2 linked regions of the Homo sapiens genome follow. The protein of the gene in region 1 interacts with the protein of each later gene in a pairwise test. Each region holds a gene or a part of one and is shown on either strand. Other genes may lie near its edges.

Region 1 (3,500 bases):
GCTTGCAGGAGAATCGCTTGAATCCGGGAGGCGGAGGTTGCAGTGAGCCGAGATCATGCCATTGCACTCCAGCCTGGGTAACAAGAGTGAAACTCTGTCTCAAAAAACAAAAACAAAAACAAAAAACAAACAAAAAACCATAAATTCACAGTTCAGTGGCAATTTTAAATGGAAAGACACGCCTTATTCACTATGATGCTTTTATTGCTAATTCATTCAGTGAAGAGGAATTATGCAAGGTTTAAAATGGCTTGCCTGTCCTGGTATATCCAAAACTCTTAATTCAGAAGATTCATCTATTTCTCCAAGAGAAGAAGCTCGTGGTGGGGCTGGAGGAGGTTCAGGCTCAAGATCAAAGTCCAATTTGGTTACTGTAGAATCACTTATAGAAGATAAAGTAACTCACCAAAACAGTAATAGAAAGTCTGTATTTTAAACAGCTTTAAAATTAAAGCAAACAATTTACTTTTTAAGTAAACAGAACACTACTTTCAAAATACTACTTGGGAAAAAAGCAAGACTCAGTACACCTGCTATAATCAGTACGTAAGAATGTCCCAATAACTTTGTATAAGAGATGCTTAAAATCTCAGACACATACCTAGCTGGAGGTGCTAGTTGAGGGATGCGTACATCAACCACTGGCACTGTAGTAGGCACAGGAGCTTGAGGGCTGAAGGTGCCAGAATGATTTACTGTAGGAATAGCTCTTCTTACTAGCCTTCCCCAAGTGGCAATATTAATATTCATTTGAGGAGCTCTGAGAAATGTTTTGCCTGTAGATGTTGAAAAAAACAAAAACAGCAAGTAATTTCTTTATGTATAACCAAAAGTCATAATTTAAAAATTCTTATCCATTAGTTTATAATCTACGAAGAACAAACAAAATTTGTCACTTAAAAAAACTAGTTTTTTACTATTTGCTAGTAAAGGCTAATGCAAAATAGCATACGTAGTTTTAAAAATAAATAGGTAAGAAATTGTTTTTTTCTCTTTAAGTCTAGTAGTAAGGTTTTAAAAATAAATCTTATCTTTTAGATATAAATTATAATAATTATGAATACATCAATATGATGTCTGGGTTTGCTTCAAATTTGAGAAAGTAGTGAGAGGATGGCATATGGATAAAATAAAATTGGCCATGAGTTGATTATTGTTGAAGCCGGGTGACTGTACATTTCACTAGTCTCTCCACTTATGGATACATTTAAAATATTCCTTAATAAGAAGTTAGAAATAAATGAATAAACAACAACAAAAAAACCCACACAGATGGCTATTACTTTTTAAATGGTAATTAGATTGTTTAAGAAAATATCAAAATGCTATGCATTTGATTGTTAGTAATTACCTTGTTGCTTTGAAAAAATTTTCTTTTGTCTTTGAAGTTTTGGTCTTCTTTCAATAACTGGATTAAAAAAGGTAACCTGCAGTGAAGAAAATTCAAGTTGACATGAAAATAGCATGGTTCATGAAATCTACTAAATTTATAAAATTTTAAAGCTTAAGAGAATCTTAGTTACAGTTTAGTCCAGCCCCTCATTTTCTACATGAGAAAACAGACATAGGAAGAATAATTGATTTGTCTCAAAGTCACATACCTATTCAGTGGCATAGCTCAGCCAAGAACTCAAGTCATCTGTCTTTCAGCCTAACACTCTTTCTACTTCTATATTATGCTGCCTACATATGTAATTTCAATTGTAGTTATGCACATTTAATAAAATACATTTATTACCTCTGCAAATAAAGTACCCTGTGGTTCCAAATAGAGACACATGCCATGCCGTTGGTTGTCTAAAAAATCTTCTAACCTCAGAAATTTTACAGCACACAGAGACCGCCAATCACGCCAATAAACTGAAATTTCCAGTTCACGTGACTAGGATAATTAAAAAAAATAATAAAGAAAACAGAAAAGACATCATTGGACACACACTTGAATAAAATATCACAAAAAATATGAAATACAAATACAATAAACAAAAATTACACACACAAAGGTCACACTGTTTTAAAGAGGTTTGTAACATTTCTCAACTGTATAGTACTTTATCAAACTTACACATTTTAATTCAAAGAAACAAAACTTACATTGTGACATTTTCCAGCTAAGGTATTCCTAAAGTATACTTAAAGAATACACAACTGGGAACAACCAATACAGATGAATAACCACCGAAACTCCTTCTCTTAGAGCTTCAATCTTTCAGATTTCCCTCCTCTATTTGCCATCATGTGCTATGTTACTACCCCAATGCTTGCTTCAAATAACTCATTTGAAACCTTTGTATTTATTTGTCTCATTGCTAAGCCAGAAAAAGTTCTGCAAATAGCATTTATTCTGTACTCACAATGTGCCACATATTGTGCTAATAAGCACTTTAAGAATATTAGGTCATTTAATTTTCAAAAGAATACCACTGGGTAGCAAGACCCATTCTGCGTACGAAAGGAAGAAAGGGGAAATTCAGACCAAGCTTTATACAGAAAGATATTCATTTATTATAACAATAAAACATAATTTAAAAAGCAAATTAGCAAGAATTTGAATGTTCAAAAACCAGGGACAAGTTAATTATACCAAAGCCGTATGAGAGAATACACAGTAGACACTGAAAATAATGCTTATGTGGCGAAATATATTTAAGGTTTTAATAACCAGTGTTTAAATGCACCTGTAGAACATAGTTCCTAAGCTGTGGCCAAACCATATACTGACCTCTACCTATATGTTTTAACGTATATACATTTTAATCATAAAGTACTGGACTTTTCTATTATTTTGTTTTTCAGGCTTCTGTACACCATCCACAAAAAGAGATAAATGTTTCTCCTTTTAAGGCTCTACAAAGCAATAAATTACTTATTTTATATAACAAATTTCAATTTATAAACTTATGCATTTCATTATGTAACGTTTTGGTATAAACAGTAAAAAAAAATCTATTGACCTTAAATTATATATCTAGTTGATGTTAATGAACACGAAAAACACTTATAAAAAATGCAACATGAAAAGAATCAAAATACAATGTGCCAGAGGGTTTCACAGTCAAACAGGAAAAGAATTAGAAAAATACGTCTATGGCAGTGAGAATGTGATCTCAGGGCCTTCCACCTCATTTCTTCTCTCTGACTCATAATTAATATGGGAGAGAACTGTCATGAAAGAAGTATGAGGAGAATATAATTAAGACTAGCAAATGGCATATAGAAGGGATGGGGTACTAAGGCTATAATATTCTATTGAAGTTAAAAGTGTTAAGTATTTTGGAAGCAGTTATTTTGTGAAATAAACTGGAGGAAGAATCATGTCAGGATTGGTAATTTAGACTCCATTTTTTTAGATTGGAGGAAGAGAGGTCTACTTTCTCCTGCTTTCTTCCACTGTTACAAGGAAGACTTGTTATGCATCAGGAAGATGCAAGATGCACATACGCTAGAGACAGAATTAATACTTGTTAAAAGTTCTTATTACACTTTTACACTGGCTAAAA
Region 2 (3,500 bases), on another chromosome or scaffold:
CCGGCCTGTACAGGGCATCCCAGCTCTCTCATTCTGCCAACCGGCAGTGCGAGGGTCCTTGTTCTTATCTTCCTGATACAGAAACAGGCCCAGGCAGGTGATGACTTCAGAGATGGTTCCTTGAGCTTTCTAGAAACATGCAGGATCCTTAGTAACCTTTAACTGGGGAAACCCAAATCTCCAGGGCCGTTTCTCACCCGCATCACCATTGACAGTTGGGGCTGTGCACTGTAGAATGTGGAATAGTGTCCCTGGCTGTCACCCATGAGATGCCAGTAGTATTCCATCCCCTCCAAGGGGTAACAACTGAAAATGACTCCAGCCATGGCCACGTGTCCCCTGGGGGCAGAATCACCTCCCCCGCCAGGTGAAATGTGATGCTCATTAGTAAAACCTGGTTCCCCTCTAGGGCCCATCATTGCCTTGGTGGGTCCTTGGTGTTTGTGGAGCCCCTGAGGAACTGCCACTAAGAGTGGGAACAGGGGCAGAGACCAGGAACTGAATCCTGCCATCCAGTCAGTTCTTAATCAGGAGGGAGCGGGTCTTGATAAAAAGGAGGAACCGTTAGGAACGGACTGTGGGAGGGTAGGCAACGTGCCCGAGGGTGGACAGCGGGTGCCCTTGTCTTTTCTTTGTCTTGTGACTGACCTGGATTTCTGGAGGAACTGTCCTCGTCTTAGAATGATCTGTTGCTTTTCTTCTGAGATTAGAGGTATTAGATTCTCTCCCAAGAGCTACTTTGGAGGTTGCCCCGGATAAACGTCGCTTTTGTAAGCTGCATTATCTCTTCCATGGGCCCTTTCGCCCGCCCGTTCCCAAGCACATACTGCTGAATTTTTGTTCTTGGTCCATCTTGCTGTCCCCTTCCCTGCTTGGCCCCCTCCTTGACCGTGACTTTGCTGCTTTACCTTGATTGGAGGAGACGCTCTGGGGCCACGGGACTGACGGTCCCTTCTGGGTGCTGCCCCCACACCCCACCCACCAGCCCTTTGTGTGCCCGGCATCCCCAGCCCAGCTGTGCCAGGCTGCCCCTGCTCGGCCGGCCATTCAGACGGCCCCAGGCGGCCTCTCGGCAAAGCAAGACAAGCCCTTCTCTTCTGCCCTCGTGGTCCCTGGAGTGGCAGAACAAAGGGCTCTGTCTCCACACCAGCCCACCGCCGCAGCCCAGAGCCCCGTTCCCTTTCAATTTCTATCGTGGCTGGGAAAGAGCCTCAGAGATTAGGCATGTTTCAGAAATGCAGCTGACGAGTTTGGGTTCTACTCATTTCCTCAGCGAGACTTTCTGAGCCCGAGCCCGATGATAAATAAAGTAGTGATTCAAGGGTTCAGCCCATGGGTTCGTCGGAGTGATGAATAAGATATCCTTGTCTGACTCACTTGTTTAAAACCCATCTCTGCCCTGCTGCACAGGGCTGTATGTGCAAGAGAAGGAGCCCCGCTAGGGGTGTTTCATGACTGTTGTTGCTGGGTGCCTGAGTTTGCTAGGGCTGCTGTAACAGAACCGCACGCTGGGTGGCCAGAACGACAGAAGTATATTGGCTTGCAGTTCTAGAGGCCAGACGTTTAAGATCACATTCAAGATCAAGGTGTTGGCAGGGTTCGTGCCTTCGGAGGGCTGTGAGAATCTGTTCCACGCCTCTCTCTGTTGGCTCATACATAGCCGTCTTCCCCTGGGTCTTCACATCGTCCTCCCTCTGTGCCTGTCTCTGTGTCCAAATTTCCTCTTATGAGGACAGCAGTCATATGGAAGGGGGCCCACCCTAATGACATCATTTTAACTGAATCATCCCCATAAAGACCCTGTCTCTAGGCGAGGCTTGGTGGCACACGCCTGTAATCTCAGCCCTTTGGGAGGCTGAGGCAGGAGGATCACTTGAGGCCAGGAGTTTAAGACCAGCCTGGACAACATAGCAAGATCCCATCTCTACAAAAAAATACTAAAATTAGCTAGACATGATGGTGAATGCCTGTGGTCCCAGCACTTTAAGAAGCTGAGACAGACAGATCGCTTGAGCCTGGGAGTTTGAGGCTACAGTGAGCTATGATCATGGCACTGCATTCCAGCCTGGGTGACAGAACGACACCCCCATCTCTTAAAAAAAAAAAAAATCCCAAATATACTCATACTCTGAAGTTCTGAGGTTTAGGATTTCAATATGTGAATATTTCTTTGTGGAGGGGAGTGGTGGACACAGCTCAGCCCATAATACTGAGAAAAGGACAAATTCAAATTACATTTTTATTTATTTGTTTATTTATTTTGGGGGCGGGGGCAGAGTCTCACTCTGTCACCCAGGCTGGGGTGCAGTGACGCGATCTCAGCTCACTGCAACCTCTGTCTCCCAGGTTCAAGTGATTCTCCTGCCTCAGCCTCCCGAGTAGCTGGGACTACAGGCGTGCGCCACCACGCCCAGCTACTTTTTGTATTTTTAGTAGAGATGGGCTTTCATTGTGTTGACCAGGCTGGTCTTAAACTCCTGACATCAGGTGATCAGCCCGCTCGGACTCCCAAAGTGCTGGGATAACAGATGTGAGCCACCGTGCCCGGCCTCAACTTACATTTTTAGATAATATAGGAACCTGGAGGGAAATGATCGTGTCAATAGAGAATAGGTCCATTTTGTCTCTTCTCACTCCTTTAAATAAACACTTTAAGGGTGAGCAGGTTGGTTGGCCACATCAATTTTGGACGCTCCCTGTTTTCCAGATCTCACACTCATACATTCAGGGGTGACTAAAGAGAGGTGAGAGGCCTGGTGCAGTGGCTTACGCCTGTAATCCCAGCACTTTGGGAGGCCGAGGTGGGAGGATCACCTAAGGTCAGGAGTTTGAGACCAGCCTGGCCAACATGATGAAACCCAGTCTCTACTAAAAATACAAAAATTAGCTGGGTGTAGTGGCACACACCTGTAATCCCAGCTGCTTGGGTGGCTGAGGCAGAAGAATTGCTTGAACCCAGGAGGCAGAGGTTGCAGTGAGCCGTGATCTTGTGCCACTGCACTCCAGCCTGGGCAAGAGAGTAAGATCCCATCTCAAAAAAAAAAAAAAAAAAAAGAGGCGAGGACCCAGCCCAGGGCGGAGTGGGTCCCATGGGATTTTACAGGGGATGTGTTGAGGGCCAGGTCCACAAGGCTGCGTGTGCCTGGTGGGGAAGCAGGATGAAGTTTACAAACAGGGCATGGGGCGGGGGTATATCTCTGTTCTCAGTATTGCCAGGGTCAGGGGCAAGGAATATCCAAAAGTAACTACACTCTTGGACCCAAGTGACCTTAGGACCAACTGCTGTCACAAGTGATTGAACAAAAGAAGTTTCTGGAAGGTCTTAAAATCCTTCAGCAAAAAGGAAGTATTGGCTGGGAGCCAGGCTCAGAGCTGGCCCTTGGGGAGACTGAGGAGAACAGAAATAGCCCTCGCCTCTGTTCAGATGTTCAGCCAGGAGTCACGAGCATGGAAGTCAAATTAACAGCCCAGTGGGGTCTGTGAAGGTGCCGGCAGCAGGC

Evidence for each region. Proteins that work in one complex are often made in the same cells at the same time.
Region 2: the proteins of PKN2 (region 1) and MYO9B interact in a two-hybrid assay, tested with the Homo sapiens proteins (one large-scale study listed by BioGRID and IntAct).

What each region holds. Positions count from the first base shown.
Region 1 is NC_000001.11:88,802,773-88,806,272, reverse strand, and holds part of PKN2 (serine/threonine-protein kinase N2), read right to left. Parts: exon of another isoform or gene 2,482-3,500; intron 1,883-2,481; coding exon 1,739-1,882; intron 1,428-1,738; coding exon 1,352-1,427; intron 777-1,351; coding exon 602-776; intron 383-601; coding exon 256-382; intron 1-255. UniProt on the Homo sapiens protein: PKC-related serine/threonine-protein kinase and Rho/Rac effector protein that participates in specific signal transduction responses in the cell.
Region 2 is NC_000019.10:17,078,777-17,082,276, forward strand, and holds part of MYO9B (unconventional myosin-IXb), read left to right. Parts: intron 1-3,500. UniProt on the Homo sapiens protein: Myosins are actin-based motor molecules with ATPase activity. Unconventional myosins serve in intracellular movements. Binds actin with high affinity both in the absence and presence of ATP and its mechanochemical activity is inhibited by calcium ions.